Linked DNA regions of Homo sapiens: all the other regions are linked to region 2. The links come from fine-mapping of genetic effects on gene expression. A gene starts in region 2. Each other region holds a variant in brackets. All regions are shown on one strand. Distances are between the middles of the regions. Region 1 overlaps DNAH11 (dynein axonemal heavy chain 11). Region 2 holds the start of CDCA7L (cell division cycle associated 7 like). Region 3 overlaps DNAH11 (dynein axonemal heavy chain 11). Region 4 overlaps DNAH11 (dynein axonemal heavy chain 11).

Region 1 (5,000 bases), 62 kb before region 2:
ATTCCTCTTAAGCCAACAGACTGGCAAATGCCAAATAATCTCCTGTTAAGCTTCTCATTGGATAAGTAGCCATGCTGAAGACTGCCTCTGTAGTATCTCACTCTCAAAGTTCTTTACAAGATTATTGAAAACGCAGACCCTTGCTCTTGGAAACCATACAGATGGATAATCAAGCATTTCTTCTCTTTTTTCCCAGGATACACTTGAAATATGCTCCAAGGAGCAGGAGTTTAAAAGCATCCTTTTTTCTCTCTGCTACTTCCACGCCTGTGTTGCTGGGAGACTGAGGTTTGGCCCCCAGGGCTGGAGCCGAAGCTATCCTTTTAATCCTGGAGACCTCACCATTTGTGCCAGTGTCCTCTACAACTACTTAGAGGCAAACTCTAAAGTAAGTGCTAGTGGTCAAATAACCTCTTCCAAGGAGTTTACAAAGCTGTCAGTCTTTGGGCACTATCAAAATTGACCATAATTTCTCTTTTGAAGCTATTATTGAAATAGCTGACACTATGTATGTATCTTCTGCCAAGTGTGAAAATAAACCAGATCAAAGGTTTTCCAGCAGTGGATGTTTGCACTTCATGAGATAGGTCAAACCAGTTCTACATCAGCAGCTTAGTGTAAAAAAAAACAAAAAATGTCCTTCATTATGTTAACAAAAACAGTGGTTTACATGTGCGTATATGCCAGATTCATTAGGCAGGTAATGAAGCATTTGCACAAATGTAATTACATACAGCAATTCTGACAGTTCATAACACTGCATTAATAATCACTACAATTAGTTCTGATGATGGAAGCAATTTACAGCGCGTCACATGTATAAATAATGGTGCATTTCCTGCATATGTCATTATTATGTATTAAGGATGCCACCTTGTTGTGACTTTCTCAGTAATGTTCCCCTTGATTTGAAGTTAAAGGTAGATGAATGATTTTATTTCGTAGCTAAAATGTGTTTTACAGATGGGAATGGGAATGCCTCATCAAGAACATTTGTGTAAGTTCTCATAAACCCAATGATTGGATTTCAAAAAGCAAGAACCATTCATTCCTAAGGATTTTCTAGCTTAATCCTCACAAGGGAAACTTTTTTCATTAAGTTAAATCCGTTAAGACTAGGATACATGTGTCAAAACCAGTCAAGTGTTGTACTCTAGGCCACATTTTCTATAAAGCGTTTTTAAAATCACCCGTCTCTGTTTCTAAATGGAAACTATTGTTTTATGTTCCTTCAGTAATGATTGTTATAACTTTTTTGGTCAGCTTTCTCAGGCTTCGGTGGTGATTTGATTGCTATTAGAATAGATACCCTTGGTACCTAACAGGCATATTTTCCCAAGGAACAAATTTTAAATAAGTTGTATCCAAAATAAATGGTTTTAATATGGTATTTGATGTTCAGTGTTCCATATCTCTCATTTTTCAATTTATAGAATTAAGTAATTCTGAATACTTTGAGCATATTTTGACCATTCTATTAAATAGTAATATTTTTGTGTTGATTCCCAGCACATTTTGTCTAAACTATTGCACATAAAATTATAACAGTTCTAGGTAGAAAAAGGAATGGACCATTTAAGACTTTTATTCATGTCCTTCATAACTGTCCTGTGAGGCTGCAACCGGGAATAGAATCGTATTTCAGCTGAATCCTATACACCATTGAGGTGGAAATGAAGGGGAGGAAGAGGGAAGTGGACACACGTGTTTCTCTCCAGCTCTTACATCCTGAGTCTTGGAAACACCAGTTGACCAACCGAGTCACACTGTGTCCTGCTTTTTTTTCATCCTGGGGCTCCAGGATCAGCACAGCCTTAAGTTTTTAACACATTCTCATGTTTCTCAGTCATTTTCTGCACATCACAAGGCGACTTATCAGGATTTGGGAATTAAATTCCTATGAGCACATGTTTGGTTGTACAAAATGGCCTTTTCAAGAAAGTATATGTAAAAAACAAAGACCAGGATTGAGGGAAAGAGAATCAATTATTGAAAAGAACAGATCTGAGGCCAGGCGTGATGGCTCATGCCTATAATCCCAGCACTTTGGGAGGCCAAGTCGGGCGGATCGCTTGAGTCCAGAAGTTCGACACCAGCCTGGGTAACATGGGGAAACCCAGTCTCCATAAAAAATACAAAAGATTAGCTGGGCATGGTGATGCACGCCTGTAGTTCCAGCTATTTAGGAGACTGAGGTGAGAGGATCGCTTGAACCCTGGAAGTGGAGGTTGCAGTAAGCTGAGATCATACCACTGCACTCCAGCCTGAGCAACAGAGTAAAACTCTGTCTCAAAAACAAAAGAGGAAAGAACAAATCCTTAGCTAAATAATTATTGAAAAGAACAGATAATTATTTAAATAATTATTGAAAAGAACAGATCCCTAGTTAAATAAAAATTAAAAAGAGATACATATTGAATACTGAAATGTGTTGCAAGCATC[G/A]ATTAAATGTAAGCAGAAAAAGAACTAAAAGTCAGAAGCCTTTGTTTTCCATCCATTTCAGCTATTTGGAAGGTAGTCCATGCAGTGGTTGAGAGAGCATGTTGCGGTCTAGGCACCCCTCTCTTATTTTTCATTCACCTCAACCCAGCTTAAAAGACATATTTGAGGTTCATTTATTCAAATTCAAATAAACTTGTAGAAAAGTACATTGGCATAGTTGAAGCAATTTTACTTGTTCTGTTCTGTCACATCACGCAACAAGCGAAGGCTATAATTATAATTATGTTTTTACTTAAACTGTTGGGAGGCAGTATACTGCCCCCGAAGGTGTAAAGGTTCCTGTCTAGAAAGGCTTCATCACACACTGGCATGTTTTGCAAACCCAGAAGAAGCTAAAGTATAGCAAAGAGAGGCTTCAAACCCTGCTCAGCCAAATAAAGAGTAGGTACAGTGATTTCTTGAATAAAACATGGTATAGTCATTAGTTACAACCCTTAGAACAGTCATTAGGCCAGTCATGCCGTAAGACAAGCCCTCAGCTCCATCTGTGGCAAGGGGATTTGTTTGCCTGGACTTTTGGAAAATACTAGGATTCTAAATACACCCCAAATTCAAATTGTGTGGATGTTGCTTTCTTTTCCTGAATCAGATAATACAAGCTGATATAAAGCAGATAATAAAAACATGTCATACTTCAAAGGCCCTGTGAACCAACATCCTTTCACAATTTTTAGATGAGAATTTGAATGTATAAACTTTCCCTGCAAACATGTTCTAGGGATGACTCAGTTTCTTTTAAAATCTGCCTAAGGCTGGGCATGGCAGCTCAAGCCTGTAAATCCCAGTACTTTGAGAGGCCAAGGAGGAAGGATGGCTTGAGGCCAGGAATTCGAGACCAACCTGGACACCATAGTGAGACCCCCATCTCTACAAAATTTTTAAAAAATTAGCGAGATGTAGTGTCCTGTGCCTGTAGTCCTAGTTACTTGGGAGGCTGAGGCGAGAGGATTGCTGGAGCCCCAGAATTCAAGGTTGCAATGAGCTGTGATTGTGCCACTGCACTCCAGCTTAGGCAACAAAGCCAGACCTCATCTCTTAAAGAAAAAAAATCTTCATAAACAGCTCAATGTTAGTGAATTTTCACTGACTATATTAGAAGACACTGAAAATAATTCTCCCAAGAAATTCTCTGCAGAAACTTAGACAATTTCTGAAGCACCTTTAAATCCTCCTATTGACGGAGGCTTGGAGGGCATTGTGTTAGAGGGGCACGTGCTACTGGTTGGCTACTCTGAGGCAGACTCTGCACCCAGCAGTGAATATTTGTGTGGTTTTCTCCACAGGTCCCATGGGAAGATCTCCGTTATCTCTTTGGTGAGATCATGTATGGAGGCCACATCACAGATGACTGGGATCGCAAACTGTGTCGGGTGTATTTAGAAGAATTCATGAATCCATCTCTGGTAAGACATTTGTAAATTAATTTGTAAATAAATTTCACTGAGCAAAAAATTCTGGTAAGAATTTTATAAACTAATTATACTATGGGCAATTCTTAATGTTATTGAGGATGCTTGGCCTTTTGGGAAATTTCTTAGAAAAGCGGAATCTCGGGTTCCATCCCAGACCTACAGAATCAGAATCTGCATTTTCACAAGTCTTCCAGGTGATCTCTGTGTGTGCTAGAGAGTGCACCAGCGTGAGGCAGCCTCACATGCACTGACTCATCGGCTCTTTATAAAAACCCTATGAGGTATGCAGAGCTGACGCTGTTATTCCCTTTTCTAGACCGAGATGCTGAAACATGGGGATTTGCCCCAGGCCACTAGGTTGGCACAGGCAAGAGTTTTGTGCGTCTTTTGATAGAAGTCTTTTGATTTCTATTCCAGAGTTTATTTCACTAAAGTTTCTTTTCTGCCTGTCATGGAAGTCCTAGAAAATAGTCTACAGTTGGACCAGTATCAGTTACTCAATTATAATATGTGCTCAAGAAAAATGTGGTCAATATGTATGTGAGGTGATAGATTTGTTAATTAGCCTGATTTAACCATTCCACGATGTACACGTGTATCAAAACATCACACTGTGCCCCATAAATATATATAATTATTATTTGTCAATTTAAAATAAAATTAAATCTAACAAGATAGTAAAAAAAAAGATTATATATATCAACCAAGGGCAAGGTAAGAACCTTATTTGGATCTTGTTCCAAATGAACTATAAAAAAAAAAAAAAAAACACACACATTTATGACACAATGGGAAATTAACATTAACATATCATGGTAATATAGAATTCCCGTTAATATTTTATGTGTGATAATAAAGTAATATAGTTATGTTTTTTAAAAAGAGAAAAGATGCTCCAGGGTGAACCTGGAGGACATTACGTTAAATGAAATAAGTCAGACGCAGAAGGACAAATACATGTTCTCACACACATAAAGACTCTTAAAAAGCTGATCTCCTATAAATGGTGAATAGAACAGTGGTTACCAGAGACTGGGGAAGGGGAGAATGGGGAATGAATGGTCAACAGATACAAAGTTACCATCC
Region 2 (5,447 bases):
AATCCTGCTCTGCTATGGATGGGGTAGCCAGCAGAACACAGAACAACCAAGGAGCGTTTTAAATACAAGACTATTAGAGTGGCAAATCATTGTCCTTTCTGTGACCAGCTTCTGGGGCTCTGGAATTACATGTTAAACAACAGGATCAGATGGGAGCACTTTGCAGCTAAGAGACCAATACCAGAAAAATACCCCTTTACCCCTTCAACAGCGTGCTCCTGCCTATTTACAAGAACATTTAGCATCATTTCCTTCTCAAATGGGCCATCCTGTACTCTGGAGCTAGAACAGAGTACGAGGAGAACACTGACATTCAGTGCCTACCAGTTTCTCTCCTACGGAGCTGCAGCAAGCTGGAGCTCCCATGAGCTGCACTGTTGACAGCTCTTAGTCAGGGATCACACCCTTGCCTTTACGAGCTATTTCTGTCATTTTATATAAAAGCACAAAGACACAGTGGTCAGCACGACAAGACTACAGCCTGGGGGAAGCGTAATCACTGTCAGAGGACATCAAATCCAACACACTGGTGGGATGGCAGGAAAGCAGACTCGAAAGTAGTTCAGAGTAAATGAGTCTCCTTGTTTGCTTCTTACTCATAACATTAGGCCTAAGCTGCTTTGCTGAAACACTTAGCTCTGCGCTTTCCAAGCGATAGAAATTATACTTACTCCAATGTGTGAGATGAAAACCCACTGCACACTGAGCTGAGCGACATTTGATGTGCAGTAATGCCACTTCAGGTGGTTCATCACATTGCTTTATTCATAAGGCTGGGGGACAGGGTGGAACCACACGAATTTAACATCTTGCTGTGCCTGAAATGTTCATTAAGTGTTCTTATCCGCAGTCACCTGCCCACCCCACAGAACCACTCTCCACTAATTTAGAGACTATAATCTGTGCACATTTAAATTACGATGAACAGGAACATTTCCACTGGAAAAACCATCACACATCTTTGATTTGCACTGCCAATTAGGTCTTCAGAAAAGGAAAAAAAAAAAAACCCTGATCATCTTACATATAGTAATTTGCCTTAATTGGTGCATAATGGATCGGATATAATTTGTGGGTAACCCCTACATGATAAATAGTTTATTTAACATTTTAGAACTACCAAAAATTAGCCTCATTGTGTGGCAGTAAACGCTCACTTCCAACTACACATTCTGGGACTTCTGAGTTTCCTAAGCATGAATTATGAATATCAGTAGTGGAAGTGCAAAGAACTCTCCAGCTTAACAACAGGAGTGACACATTCCAGAAACATTTTCTGATTACATTCACAAGGAGCTCCGGAGTGATAAATTCCAGATACATTTTCTGACTAAACTCACAAGGAGCTCAAATCTCCATCCAGAGGGTTTGTTTTTTGTTTTTAGTCCTGTAGCAACAGAAACTCCTAGAAGGTTAGGACGCCAGCCGGAAGTGGTGGCTCACGCCTGTAATCCCAGCACTTTGGGAGGCCGAGGCAGGTGGATCACCTGAGGTCAGCAGTTCAAGACCAGACTGGACAACATTGTGAAACCCTGTCTCTACTAAAAAAAAAAAAAAAATACAAAAAATTAGACAGGCGTGGTGGCGGGCGCCTGTAATCCCAGCTACTCGGGACGCTGAGGCAGGAAAATTGCTTGAACCCGGGAGGCGAAGGTTGCAGTGAGCCGAGGTCGCGCCATTACACTCCACCCCGGACAAGAGCGAAACTCCGTCTCCAAAAAAAAAAAAAAAAAAAAAAGGATGCTAATACACGGTAAAAGCCAGTGGCAAAAAATAAAAAATCGAACCCTGTCTCATTCCGTAGGCTTTACTGTTTCCCTTGCTTTTAATAGTTTATCTCACAGGAGGCATTTTAAAAATATTCTCAGAAACATCAACAACAGATTTTTCTCAAGCGACCATTTTCAGGAAGGCTTCAGAAATTACTAAAAGGCCAAAGCTACCGTTAGTGGCTCAGTCTTTGCCGCCAGACTCGGGCAGGTGACAGCGGTTTGGGCTCGGGCGCCGGGCACTCTGCGCCTTCCAACGCTGGCGGCCCCGCCTCCCCTTCTCCCGGGCCAGGCACGCAGGTGGAGGAAAGTAAACACCAGTCGGAAGCAAGGTGGAAGCAGTGAGTCTCGCGACTCTCAATAAAACAAGTGGAAAAAAAAAAAAAAACAATCCTCGCACAAAGCATCTCCGTGCTCCCACAAGCAGAGGCGTGGCTGCTTGTTTCCCTTTTTAAAGGTTGTATTTTTAGTTCTTATGAAAAATGTTTTTATTGCTTACTTCTAAGTAAACATGTATCTCCATTACGATAACGTAGAGAAAAGCTCTTTTAAGAAGTAAAAAGAGAAAACTGAAGTCACGTTCACATTCCCACTACTCACTGAAACGTTTGGGGGAACTTACTCAAGTGTTTGCTAATGAGTTTTAAAGACGAGTTAGGCCCTTAACGCGTAATTGGGGTCGTGCTGTGCATATGATTTGGGATCTTGCAGCTTGTTTAACTCGGCCCAATGACGTTACCATTTCCCCCAAATGGTTACTAATTCCTTGAAAACGTTTACAAAAGTTCTAGAATAAACACTAAAGTTATTATTTTTAAACTCCATTATCCAAGTTGGACTGGTCTGGCGATCGACTGTTAAAAAAAAAAAATTACAACTTTCTTAAGCTTCCTGATCTCTGTGCCAATTCCCGGAGAAAGTGTGGGGAGTGCACAAAAAAAGCCCCTCCCCCGTCTCACGAGGGCTGCAAACGCAGGCGCTGCGCCCCGCTAGCTCCCCGCCTGCACCCCCGGCGGCCACCCGAGACTGAGCAGAGCGCCAGGCTGAGCGCGGTTGTGTGCTGGGGCGACCGGCCTCTGTGGTCCGCGTAGCACAAACGTGACCCACTGCGCACACCTGCAGGGCGCGCCCACTCCGGCACTCAACCGGCTGGGCGCGCCAGATCCCCAGTGCCGCAGCCAAGGGCCACGTTTCCAGCCCAAGGCCAGCAGGACCGGGTGGCAAAGGGAAGTCAAACTGTGGGTGCGTCCGGACGGCGGCGGGCGGCCGGACCCTCACCTGGTAGCGAGTCGCCAACTCCATTCTTCCTAACCGGGCTCCAGTCTCCTCCCAGCACGCGGCCACGGGAGCCCGGACTCACCACGGCCCGGCGCACCAAGAACGCCCCGCGCCCGAGCAGCTAGCGCGCTCCGCCCGGAGCACAGGCGGGCCCCGGGAGGGGCGCACTTGACGCCCTGGACAGGGGGAGCGCGTTGCGCTGCCCCCTCGGTGCCGCCTCACTGGGCCTCGTGGCTCCGATCACGTTCCAACTTCGCGGCCACTGACCTTGTCTTCGCAGGCGGCGCGAGAGGGGGCTGCAGTTGGGCGCGGCAAGAGCAATTACCAGTGTTAGGGCGCCGGGCTCCCCCCTGCAGCAGAGGGAGGGAGTGGAGCCGTCCGGCGGGGTTTAGCGCGGGAGAAATGAGGGGGCTGTCCCGGCGCAGCCTCCAGCTGGCACGCGCGCTGGATACTTGGCAGGGTTTATTCCAGGTCATGCCCTGGGGCGCGAGCTTCTGCTGCAACCCCTGTCTCTGATCCAGGCAAATATTGTAGGGCGGCTTTGGGGCTTGTTTTGTTTTGTTGTTGTAACGGGGCAGGGTTCTCTTTGGGAAGATTCTGTCTCCCAAAACATTTGCTACAGGGTTCACTTTGCAGAACAGGCAACCCAGGTTTCTTTACCAAGGCCCAGGTGGACAGATGCAAACCCGCCTGAAACTTTAGACGGCCATTACACAGTAGGCCTCCACACCCACCAGACAAAGAGTTTGTAGAGGTCAGGAATGCTGACTAATTTAACAGAATTGACCCCGGCATCTACTAAGCATCAGGCACTGGGCTAGTCCTAGGAACAGAAGGGTGAACAAAAACAGGCCCCTGCTCTGTTGGAGTTTACAGCCTGAGAGCCAGTTACCAACCTAATTGCATTATTCTAAATAAATACAATAATGATGCAAATAAGTGTAATAACGATGTAAATTTTATAAATTAGATTTATAATTAATATTAATTTGATACCACTATCAATGACAAATGTAATGATGATGCAAATAAATGTAAATTTGGAGCGATGATGCCATGAGAAAAAAGGCAAGTGGTATTAATGGTGGTGTGAAATAGGAAGACAATCTGATAGAGGTCAGGGAATACTTCTTAGAGTTCAGATATGAAGAGTGAGGAATTAAGTTTGTGGAAATTGTGGGAGAGTTGAAGTAGAGAGTGGGGAGAATGGTAAATGAAGTTGTCCTGAAATCACAGCAGGTTTGCTGGACAGTGTTGCACACCTATTTAGAACCGTGGTCATAGGTTTACAGTAGAGCATCCTGTACGCATAGGACCTTCTGCAGCCCCTCTCAGCTGCTTAGGATCTGACGTTCATCTTTTCTTTATTGAACGAGTGAATGAAATTTGCCAAACATTTACTCAAGCTTGAAGAGAAAACATGGAAAAGGTTTCCTTCCTTCCTTTGGTTAGTTCAGCAAACAACATGTGTTATGTGCTTTCATGTTCCAGCCCTCAGTGTTCTCACTTCCTGGTGGTAGTAAAACCAATACAACATTGTGTGACTTAAAATGTTTTGTTTTTATTGGATAATGTTATTTATTCATTATGGCCACTTCATTTTTATTATGCTTTAGAGTTTTCCTTCACATGCAGTATCTCCTTGAATCCTCTCAATATCCTTCCAGATCCTTATTGTCCACATTTTTAAAATAAGGAAACAGAATCTAAGAAAATACATTAAGAGATCCCTGCCACCCTGCCACTAAGTGACAGCAGCAGACTGCCAAACTGAAAACCATTCCTTATGCCTCCAGATCCAACATTCTTTCCATTTTTCTGTATTTTTTCCCTTTGGCTGCCAGGAAGCTTAGAGTGAAAATTAATTCAATCAGAGCTCTTCTTCCTCTTTTTTTTTTTTTAGATAGTTGCTTCCTCATGAACTGCTGATCTTGTTTGCACTTCTTTTCATTGTAGGTTAAATCAAATCAATTTTGGAAAAGGGAGCACAAATTTGAAGCAGGTCAGATTTTGCAAAACACTTGAAGCAGCCTAGACTAGCTACTTCTGTATCAGGAAACCTGTAAGCTGTTGAACCTTTCTGTTTAGAAATTTGCCATAACTAACCCTAAGTCTTCAGATGACAACCCCTAAATTTTCTTCCTGTGCTTAGCAAAGCCTGTACACGTTTGATGGTATTTAGTAATTGATTATATAGTGGTGTGTTTTGTTTTGTTTTGTTTTGTTTTGTTTTGGTCAGGCTTTGGGAAAATCTCTAAGGAACCAGAGGATTTAAACATGGCACTGCAGTAATACTTTCTAATAATTATTACTGATAGGGTTCACGGGATGTGAGCACTGGGTTTCATCATGGCACTGCAAGAATGAGTGTCCCTTCCAGATGCAACAGTATACATATTG
Region 3 (5,373 bases), 45 kb before region 2:
AGTTTGGCCAGTTATTAAAATATAATAACACCCTCAGTTGGAGGCCTTTGTAGCCATCACTCTCCTCTTGTCAAATGCTGCCGTGGAGATGTCAAAAGCTAGCATACTTCTTTTCCCTTTATAAATGGCTTCATGTTTTCCCCTGGCCATCCAGGGATTCTTCATTGTTCATATTATTCTTTATATTTTAGTATTGATTACTCTCTACCAAATTTTCTTGGAACATGATGTGCCCTTGATTGTATAGATTCAAAGGTATAATTTAGGAAAACTCAAATTTTCTAGAATTACACTTTTTTTTTGAGAGATTCTCATTCTGTTGCCTAGGCTGGAGTGCAGTGACGTGATCGCAGCTCACTGCAACCTCTGCCTCTTGGGTTCAACCGATTCTCCTGCCTTCAGCCTCCCTAGTAGCTGGGATTACAGGCATGTGCCACCATGCCCGGCCAACTTTGTTATTTTTAGTAGGGATGGGGTTTCACCATGTTGGCCAGGCTGGTCTCGAACACCTGACCTCAAGTGATCCACCTGCCTCGGCCTCCCAAAGTGCTGGGATTACAGATGTGAGCCACCACGTCTGGCCTCATTTCAGCTTTCATTTTATTGCTTTCACTCTAACCCTTTACCTCTTTATTTCCATTTGTTTTTATTATTCTCCCTTACGCTGTTTCACTTTTGCTTTCATTTCTATAATTTTATTTTCTACTTCTTATTTGGGGTCTTCAAACTTAATTTCCTTACTATTTCCTACCTGATCCCTTCTAAGTCATGATCTTGTTTATATCAACAATCACTTGTTTTAGTTGTTACAAATTGTCTGCAGTGTTTATCCTCATGATGGCAACATTTTGAGAGAAATGTCTTCCTGCCTTTGCTTTTCTCATTCGCCTTTTTCCTTTGTGTGGTGCCTATGCTGTTTCTTCTTCTTATCGTCGAGTATGCTTTTTCGGATCCAGCTATCTGGAAGAACTTAATATAGGTCCGGGCACAGAGATTTTCCTTGTGGTGACGTAAGTTTGACCGTGAGCATTCTGAGCCTTTTCTTCTTCACGGCCCAGAGTCAGGCAAGTATCTCAGGCAGACATGTTCTGCCATGTGGTTTGTCAGGGTGTTTCCTCATTCACCCCCACTTCCTTTGCATATCTGAAGCAGACAAGGTCCTAGAAAACTTCAGTGCCAGCCTTTCCTTCTAGAGAACTCTGGCTTTTACACTGAGGCTATGCTCTCTACTCCATTCTCCTGGTCCCCTTTAAGCAGCCTCTGAAACTTACAATTCAAGGTTTCACTTCTCTCTTAATTTTATCGAAGAGGTTCATCTGTCCCTAGCCTCTGTGAGCCAGCTTCCTTATAGGTCAACTGCAAATACTTCCTACCTTGCCCAATTGTGAGGAGCCGAGAAGAGAACATGTACGTAACAGCAGCGTTTCTCAACCCACCGGCGTGCCATTCCTGGCTGACTTGTTTTCCTAATTAACCTTTTTCCTCCCCACTTTCAGGCAGCTACTGCACGTGCTTAGACTGCCGTCACGTGCTCCACTGCCTCCGCACATGCTGTTCCCTCTGCTTATCAATCAGATTTCCCGGCAACTCTGGTCTTGTAACCACCATCACAGCCTTGCCATCCCTGGTCCTCAGACACCCTGTCCATACCTCCAAGTTGGCGCTTGTCAGTCCAAGTCATAGGGTGATGACCTTTGTATAGTCACCACATAGCATGAAGAGGCTCTAATAAAAGCTGTTGCATAAATGGAAATGAGTTTTCCACATTCCTCAGTGTATCTTGCTCTAATGTAAACGCTACAGTCATCAAGTCTCCAATGGGAAACAAACTAGCCCTTTAAAGGGACAGTGCCCTGCAAATTGTCAGGGAAGGATTTTACCAGCTAGCAGTGGTATACTTCTCCTCCACCACCACCCTGCCCTAACCGCCCACAACAGAACATACTGGAAAATGGCTATTTTACTGAACAGCAAGTTTTTCTTCCTCCCTCCCATAAACCAGGTTCAATGACCTCCTCCTGCGATGCCGAGAACTCGATACTTGGACACAAGACCTTACCCTTCCGGCTGTCGTGTGGCT[C/A]TCCGGCTTCTTCAACCCTCAGTCCTTCTTAACTGGTAAGGGCTGACGCAGTGCAGCCCCTGATGCACACAGGACCACAGCCTAACCAGAAGCCCTGCTTTGTTTACCTATGATGGCGTCTCCTTGCCCTGCTCACCAATCCTCAAGCAGCAGCCATTATAGAAAGGACCAGCAGCTATAGAGGAAACAGAGTCCTGGGCAGGCGAGTAGCAGCAGGAGGGAAAGGACCTCCTATAGCAGCAAGAGTAGCCAAGTGAGGTGGGGCACGGTGTGCTCTTATTAAACATTTTCTGGAAAGGGCCACATAGCTTCTCTGCTACTGTAGTGCGAAAACCACAGACAATCCACAAATGGCTGTGACTATTCCAATAAAACTATCTACAGAAACAGCGAGCTTGTCCTGCAGGCCTTAGTTGGCCAACCCCCTGCTCCAGCGCAGCCATGTGCCAATGCCCAAGAACCTAAAACACCCTATGGGACTAAAGGATGCCTCAATTTACTGGTAGCTCCCGGGAACCTTACATGCAACACTTTTATCCTATTCAATTTTTGTTATATTTCCAAAGCAATCATGCAGACGATGGCTCGAAAAAATGAGTGGCCCCTGGATAAAACGCGCTTGACTGCTGATGTTACCAAAAAAACAAAGGAAGATTATGGACACCCGCCAAGGGAAGGTGCATACCTCCACGGACTCTTCATGGAGGGTAAGACACCCCAAGGGGTAAGTGGGGAACCTTTTCTTACTCAGGTTCAGATCAGTGTTTGTCCTCTGCTTACTGTTTCTCAGCATCTCCTCACTCACACAGTAACCTTATGCTAGTCATTATCTCATTTCTTCCTCTTAAATAATTTAAGTGCTGGGATGTGTGTCCACTGTGAACCAAACTGTAATATTTGGGGTGATGGCTATCACTTAAATTTTGCACATATATCTGGATGTTAATGCCACTGAATAACATCATTAGACTTAGACTGAATTTACATTCTTTTTGCTTTTCAATATAATCATTTCAAAATCTTTCTTCTATTGTTTAAAAACTGTCAGTAAATTTGCTCTAATGTTTTACTACAAGACTTCTCCAAGCCTGGAAGATGCTACTGCGTAGGGTGAATCTCTAAGAGGGGGTTAGACTATGCAATATTTTCCAAATTTATCTGGCCATGCATTTATTCCACAGGACACTTAGTCCCTACCAAGATGTTCCTTTTTCAGTTTAAAGCAAGTGCCACAAGTTCTGGTGTAAAAGAATAAGGTGCGACGGGGAGGAAATGTGGTGAACTGGAGATTTTTAAAGGGAGGGCAAACTAGTTCAGTGTATGTGAATTCTCTTAGAATCCCATTTCATAAAATCAGCTTACTTCCACAGGAAAGTTTAACCACTACGCATGGAAGCAAAGCGGTGCCTCCGCTGCAGGCAGGGTAACCTACCTTTCAAAGCTCAGTCCGGCCAGCTCAGTAAAAATACCACTGACAAGCAAAAATATGACAAAACCAGAATGTTGAATGTTTATTGCATCAAACAACTTACTTGATCATTATCATTAGTAGCAAGCTGCCACACAATTGCAACCGCTGTGTTTTTGCCATAGGCGCCCGCTGGGACACCCAAGCAGGAACCATTGTTGAAGCCCGTCTCAAGGAGCTGGCATGCCCTATGCCGGTCATCTTTGCAAAAGCCACCCCCGTGGACAGACAAGAAACCAAACAGACCTACGAGTGCCCTGTGTATAGAACCAAACTGAGAGGCCCCAGCTACATCTGGACCTTCAGGCTGAAGAGCGAAGAGAAGACTGCAAAATGGGTTCTGGCTGGAGTGGCTCTGCTTCTAGAAGCGTAAGGTAACACTGGCATTCCTCTAGCCTCTGCTGGAGTGCAGTGAGGATTTTCTAGCATGTTGCTGCACTGTTCCCATGCACATTATTCTAACTTTTTAGTAACTCACACGTGCATTCTTTTTTCAACGCTATCCTTAGAGTGAAAGTCAGAAAAAAATACTAGAAACTAACTCAGGGCTGAGCGTGGTGGCACACGACTGTAATCCCAGTTACTCAGGAGGTAGGAGAATCACTTGAACCTAGGAGGCAAAGGTTGCAGTGAGCCGAGGTTGCACCACTGCACTCCCTCCTGGGCAACAGAACAAGACTCCATCTCAAAAAAAAAAAAGTACATCATAAAAGTACATCATATGTGAACATGCAAAAGCAATGCAGCCGGAAAGAACGGAGATTTTAATTTTTAACAAACAACAAATTAAATTATTAGCCCTTAAACTCTTTCAAAATATAAAAGCAGCAGGCCCCAGGTGAGTCCTGAAGGAAGAGGCTAGCACTCTGTAAGGCCTCCAGTGTCCAGTGTCTACAATGTTGATGGTCCCCTTTTGTTCAGTCAAGTTTTAATAAAAATAAAACTGTTCTACAGTTAATTGCACTTTGTTCAGTGTAAATTTCCAATGACCAAGAGCAGGTTAAACGATGTGTGTGGTCTATTAAACTGTGGTCACTCGTGCTAAGGCACACTTGGCCTGGAGTGAGTTACTGTTTGGGAAGCCAAAGATAGATAGATCAAGTGCAGGAGCTGATCATACAATGTTTTCTCTCTAACTTACTTACCTGAACTTTAACCCCACCCCATTTAAACTGTGCTTTTTAATAACTGGCAGATATTTTTAACAAAGTTCAGCATACAGACAGGTCTGTGCATACATCTATATAGATTCCTCTGCTCTGCTGTCTTCCTGAGAAATCTTTGTAAGCATATAAACAATCTTTAACAAAAAATAGTAATTTCTACAAAGAATTTCTGTATAAAAACACAACTGTAAAAAAATCTTTCTTAGGCACCAATGGTATGCATGTCTTGTTGGAGTACTCTATGGTGAGGTGGCTGGTTCTGTTTGTTTTCCTCTTAATTGTCTTCTACCAGCTCCTTTTGTAAGCTGGGAAAAAGATGAGAAGTATTTGGTAAAGTAGTACAAATACACAAATGGCATTCTAGGCTTGAGAGATTCCACAATCATCTAAGAGTACAAAGCCAGAACCCAGATCTCCTGACACTCGAAATCCTGACAATTTATGCATCAATATCCGTATACCCTCTGGTGTAGTACGCCCCAAGCATGACTTGCCTCACTCCCGCATTCCAGAACCACGATTCAGAGTTTATTAATTACATAAATGAAACTTGTAACTCACATTCTGTCCTCTTGCCCTGAACTCTCTCTCTGCACTAGGATTATGGCTGCCTCTTCATAATCTGTGTCTTTCCCCTCAGCCTGCCTTGTTTGTTTGTT
Region 4 (5,000 bases), 89 kb before region 2:
GACCTCCAAAAAATCAACCCCCTCTACCAATTCTCTTTGAAGGTAATGCTGAATGAGCTAAGAAATATGGGAAACTTTAGGAGTTCAATTTGTTTCTGGAACATTGGAATTTATTTTATTATTGATAATAATAATAACTATTATTACTATTATTGAGACAGAGTCTCACTCTGTAGCCCAGGCTGGAGTGCAGTGGCGTGATCATTGCAACCTCTGCCTCCCATATTCAAGCAATTCTCATGCCTCAGTCACCTGAGTAGCTGGGACTACAGGAGTGCGCCACCACACCTGGCTAATTTTTGTATTTTTAGTAGAGACAGGGTTTTGCCACATTGCCCAGGCTGGTCTCGAACTCCTGACCTCAAATGATCTCCCCTCCTTGGCCTCCCAGAGTGCTGAGAGTACAGGCGTGAACCACCGCGCACAGCCAGAATGTATTTTTAAGCCATCGGTGTACCCAGTAAGGAGTCATGAGGATCTGGTTAACAAAATAACAAAAGCAAAATTCTTATTCTCAGGAATTTTCATTTATAATTTTCAGTAAGGCTTTGAGGTAATTAAACTGTGCATACGGTATCATATTATATTGGTGTATTGCTCCTGAGCAGTCTCTTAATTTTTTTTTTTTTTTTTTTTGGGATGGAGTCTCCCTCTGTCGCCCACGCTGGAGTGCAGTGGCGCGATCTTGGCTCACTGCAAGCTCCACCTTCCGGGTTCACTCCATTCTCCTGCCTCAGCCTCCTGAGTAGCTGGGACTACAGGTGTCCGCCACCACACCTGGCTAATTTTTTGTATTTTTAGAAGGGATGGGGTTTCACCGTGTTAGCCAGAATGATCTCTATCTCCTGACCTCGTGATCTGCCCGCCTCAGCCTCCCAAAGTGTTGGGATTACAGGCGTGAGCCACCGCACCTGGCCAGCAGACTCTTTAAGGGAATTTTCCTTGAGGCTCCTATTTTGTCTTTGTGAAAATATGTCTTGGAAAGAGAATGCTCATATTTCTTTGCTAAAGAAAGAAAAATAATAAGAACAACTATTTATTGAGTCACTATTACATGCAAGGCATTTTTATACTTTGGCTCATTCTTTATCCCTATTACATCTCAATAAAGAATATAATATCCCCATTTAAAAAATAAGGATGACATTTTCAAACTTTAAATAAATTGCCCAAGAATTTACATTTGTTATTGTAAGAGCCAGCATTTCAACCTGTAACTGTTTCCAAAGCCCACGCTCCATACCTTGTACCATGCTGCTGCCTGCTGGGCAGTGCTCATTCATTCTGTTCATCTGTTCATCCGTTTTTAGACAAATGTTTATTATGATCAATCACGTCAGATGCTTGTCACTTGAGTGTATAGTTTTGGACAAAACATAAGGGTGGAGGTATATCTATATGTAGATACATATAGATATATATGTACACATAGATATAGTTCCACCTTTATGATCATACATTTGTTTATAAAAGTAGAAAGTATTGTAAGACAGAATGATAGAGGTGGAGAGGCTGCTTTTACTGGGGGCTCAGGGAAGGCCTCCCAGAGGAAGTAACGTTTATTTCTGAAGGATAAGTAGGACTTAGCTATGTAAAGAGTGTTTGGAGAAAACAGGAATGTGTGAGATGAAAGAATTCAGGGATTCCAGGTAGTGAGTGAATTTCTGTGGCTGCAGGGTAATGAGCAAGGGGAAAGGTAGCAAGAAATGAATCTAGAGAGGTGGGAAAGACTGAATCACGCAGAGTTTTGTAGACCACTGTGTGTGGAATTTGGGGATTATAATCTGTGTGCAACAAGAAGCCATTGGAAGATTTCAAGCAGATAACTGATGTGATGACAAAAGACTCAGAGTTACGTGAACAGACCTGAGATATGATTTGAAGCTGGAATCATTGGCTCCTGGAGATGGACTGGTTATGGGCAATAATAAAGAGGAAAGGATCAAGCATAACTAGCAGGTTTCCTAACAGTACAGAACTAGTATGCAAAACTTCTAACAAGCACAGTGTGGTTGGAGTTTGAAAGTAACCATGTGTGAGGAGAAGAGTAAAACTAAATCATCAGTGTCAGCCCAGTATTGCCCAAATTCCAAAACTACACTAAGGCATTACAATAAAAGAAAAATACTGGGCAGTCCCCCCTTGTAAACATTGTTGGTAAACTCCTCCAGAAAATGTTGGCAAATTGAATCCAACCATATATAAAAAGCACAATGTATCATGACCAAGTGGAATGTATGCCAAGAATCAAATTGGTTTAACATTCAAAAATCACGAAGTGTAATTAATCAGTTAACAGAATAAAAGAAAAAAAAGCTCATATGGTCATTTCAGTTGATGCAAAGAACTTGAAAAATTTCAACAAATGAGTTAAAAAAAAAACCAACCAACTCTCAACTAATGAATAGATGGTAACTTCTCAACATGATAAAATGCATCTAGAAAAAATCTACACCAACATTATACTTAATGTTGAAAATGGAATGCTTTTCGCTAAAATCAGGAACAAGACAAGGATATCTTTCTCTCAGCACATCTATTCAGCGCTGCACTGGAAGTTATAGTCGGTACAGTAAGACAATAGAAGGCAAGAGATTTAAAAGAAGAAGAAAAACT[G/C]TGTTTTTTCACAGATGACCTGATTATGTATATAGAAAATCCCAAGAAACTCACCAAAACCCTGCCAGGACTAAGAAGTGAATTTTTAGCAAGGTTGCAGGATATAAGGTTGATATACAATGTACCTTGTATTTCTATACATGAGAAACAAGTGGAAAATAAAATCAGTGTCTTAGCACTATTTACAGTGGCTTCCAAAGCCGTGAAGCTTTTTAGGAATAATTTTAATAAAATATATGCAAGGTTTGTATTCTAAAAACTCCAAAATATTGTTGAGAAAAATTAAAGAAGTCCTAACTAAATAGATACACCATGTTCATCAGTTGGAATGCTCAATATTGTTAAGATGTCAGTTCGCTCCAAACTGATTTATAGATTCAATTCAGTCCCAATCAAAACACCAGAAGACATTTCCTTTTTCCTTTTGGTAGAAATTGGCAAGCTTATCCTGAAAATTTGTGTGAAAATTCAAAGGACTTAAAATAGCTAAACAATTTTGAAAAAGAAAAAAAAAAACAGGGTTGGAAGACTTACAATTTCTGATTTTAAGACTTAAATCTACACGAATCAAGATGTTGTGGTACTGGCCTGAAGAAAAATGCATAGATCTGTGGAACAGATTGGAGAATCCCGAGGTACACCCACAAATGCATGGTCAATTGATTTTCAGTAGGGGTGCCAAGACAATTCAATGAGGAAAGGACAGTTTTTACAACAAATGGTGCTGGAGCAATTGGATATCCACATGACATAAAATAAACCTCAAACTATTATACTATATAAAAAAATTCAAAATGAATTTATTAAGCTATACATTTTCTAGGAGAAAAATAAGAGAGGGCTTTGGGTTAGGCAAAGATTTCTTAGGACACAATAGAAAATAAAAACTTAATAAATTGAACCTTATCAAGCTTAAAAGTTTATGGTTTTCAAAAGATATGAAGATGAAAAGGTAGGCCACAGACAAGCAAAGACAATATTCTCAATACATATATATAAAACAAAGAATTTGTATCAGGATATAAAAAGAACTTGTACAACTCAGTAATAAGAGTTGAACAGACATGTAATAACACATGTGAATTATCCACAAGCACATTAAAAATGCTCATCAGGCATCAGAAAAATGCAAAATAAAAGCAGAATGAGGTCTTATTCTATGTCCCACAGAATGGCTAAAGTTTCAGAAGACTCTTAATAGCAAGTGTAGCACAGATATGGTACTACAGCTCTCTCACATTGCTGGAAGGAATGCAATAAACCATTTTGGAAAACAGTTTGGCAGTTTCTTGTAAAGATAAATATACAGTTAGAAAATATGATCTCACACTTTTACTCCAGGCATTTACCTAAGATAAATAAAAATGTATGCCTGCAAAAAGCTTAACAAATGTTCATAGATGCTTTATTCATAAAAGCCAAAGTCTAAAAACAATCCAAAGGACTGACACATTAATAGTCATGCAGATTTTGCATGTTCCCACAGTGGGCTATTACTCAAAACATAAAGGTATGAATTGTTGGTACACACAACAACGTGGATATGTCACCAAACGATTATGTTGAAAAGAAGCAGCCAGATACCGAGGAGTATATACCATATGATGCTATTTATGTGAAATTATAGAAAAGGCAAAATTATTCTACAGTGACAGAGGCAGGTCAGTAATTGACTGGGGCTGGCGATGGTGGTGGGAATAGGCTGTAAATAGGCACATGAGAACTTTTTCTGGTAATGTAAGTAGAAAGGTTCTTTATCTTGATTGCTACGGTTATTGTTAGAATATATCTATTTGTCAAGACTCATCAAACTGTGCATATAATAGGCACATTTTATAGTATGTAAACGAAAAACTGATTTTAAGAAAGTGTAAATATCAGGTTAGTACAGATTGAGCCTCCTAATCCAAAAACCAGAATGCTCCAAAATCTGAAACTTTTTGAATGCTGACAAGATGCCCCAAGTGGAAAATTCTACACCTGACCTCATGCACTTTATGCACAAAATTGTTTAAAATATTGTATAAAATTAACTTCAGGCTATGTGTATAAGGTGTCTATGAAACATACATGAATTTTTTTTTTCATTTTGTTTTGTTTTTGAGATGGAGTCTCACTCTGTCACCCAGACTGGAATGTAGTGGTGCAATCTCGGCTCACTGCAATCTCCACCTCCCAGGTTGAAGCGATTCTCCTGTCCCAGCCCCTCAAGTAACTGGGACTACAGGCACCCACCACCATGCCTGGCTAAATTTTGTATTTTTGGTAGAGATGGGGTTTCACCATGTTGGCCAGGCTGGTCTCAAACTCCTGAACTCAGGTGATCCACCTGCCTCAGCCTCCCAAAGTGCTGGGATTACAGGCATGAGCCACAAGCCCAACCT

Evidence for each region.
Region 1: its variant is fine-mapped to the expression of CDCA7L in whole blood (TOPMed, PIP above 0.99).
Region 3: its variant is fine-mapped to the expression of CDCA7L in whole blood (INTERVAL, PIP above 0.99).
Region 4: its variant is fine-mapped to the expression of CDCA7L in whole blood (TOPMed, PIP 0.98).

Annotation. Positions count from the first base shown.
Region 1 is chr7:21,880,506-21,885,505 of GRCh38, forward strand. DNAH11 (dynein axonemal heavy chain 11) reads left to right here. Exons shown (of 82, transcript NM_001277115.2): 75 at 197-388; 76 at 3,786-3,905. Among named protein-coding and RNA genes, the nearest start is that of CDCA7L, 63 kb to the right of the region's middle. The variant G/A (reference allele first, on the strand shown) is at 2,443.
Region 2 is chr7:21,942,734-21,948,180 of GRCh38, forward strand. CDCA7L (cell division cycle associated 7 like) reads right to left here and starts at 3,166. Exons shown (of 10, transcript NM_018719.5): 1 at 3,048-3,166. The coding sequence starts at 3,071. RefSeq lists a silencer at 2,785-2,834 and enhancers at 2,975-3,124, 3,120-3,830, 3,515-3,764.
Region 3 is chr7:21,897,334-21,902,706 of GRCh38, forward strand. It overlaps DNAH11 (dynein axonemal heavy chain 11), which reads left to right. Exons shown (of 82, transcript NM_001277115.2): 80 at 2,003-2,115; 81 at 2,647-2,787; 82 at 3,674-4,506. The coding sequence ends at 3,921. It overlaps CDCA7L (cell division cycle associated 7 like), which reads right to left. Exons shown (of 10, transcript NM_018719.5): 10 at 3,566-5,019. The coding sequence ends at 4,989. Among named protein-coding and RNA genes, the nearest start is that of CDCA7L, 46 kb to the right of the region's middle. RefSeq lists enhancers at 829-2,028, 980-1,039. The variant C/A (reference allele first, on the strand shown) is at 2,081.
Region 4 is chr7:21,854,414-21,859,413 of GRCh38, forward strand. DNAH11 (dynein axonemal heavy chain 11) reads left to right here. Exons shown (of 82, transcript NM_001277115.2): 68 at 1-42. Among named protein-coding and RNA genes, the nearest start is that of CDCA7L, 89 kb to the right of the region's middle. The variant G/C (reference allele first, on the strand shown) is at 2,617.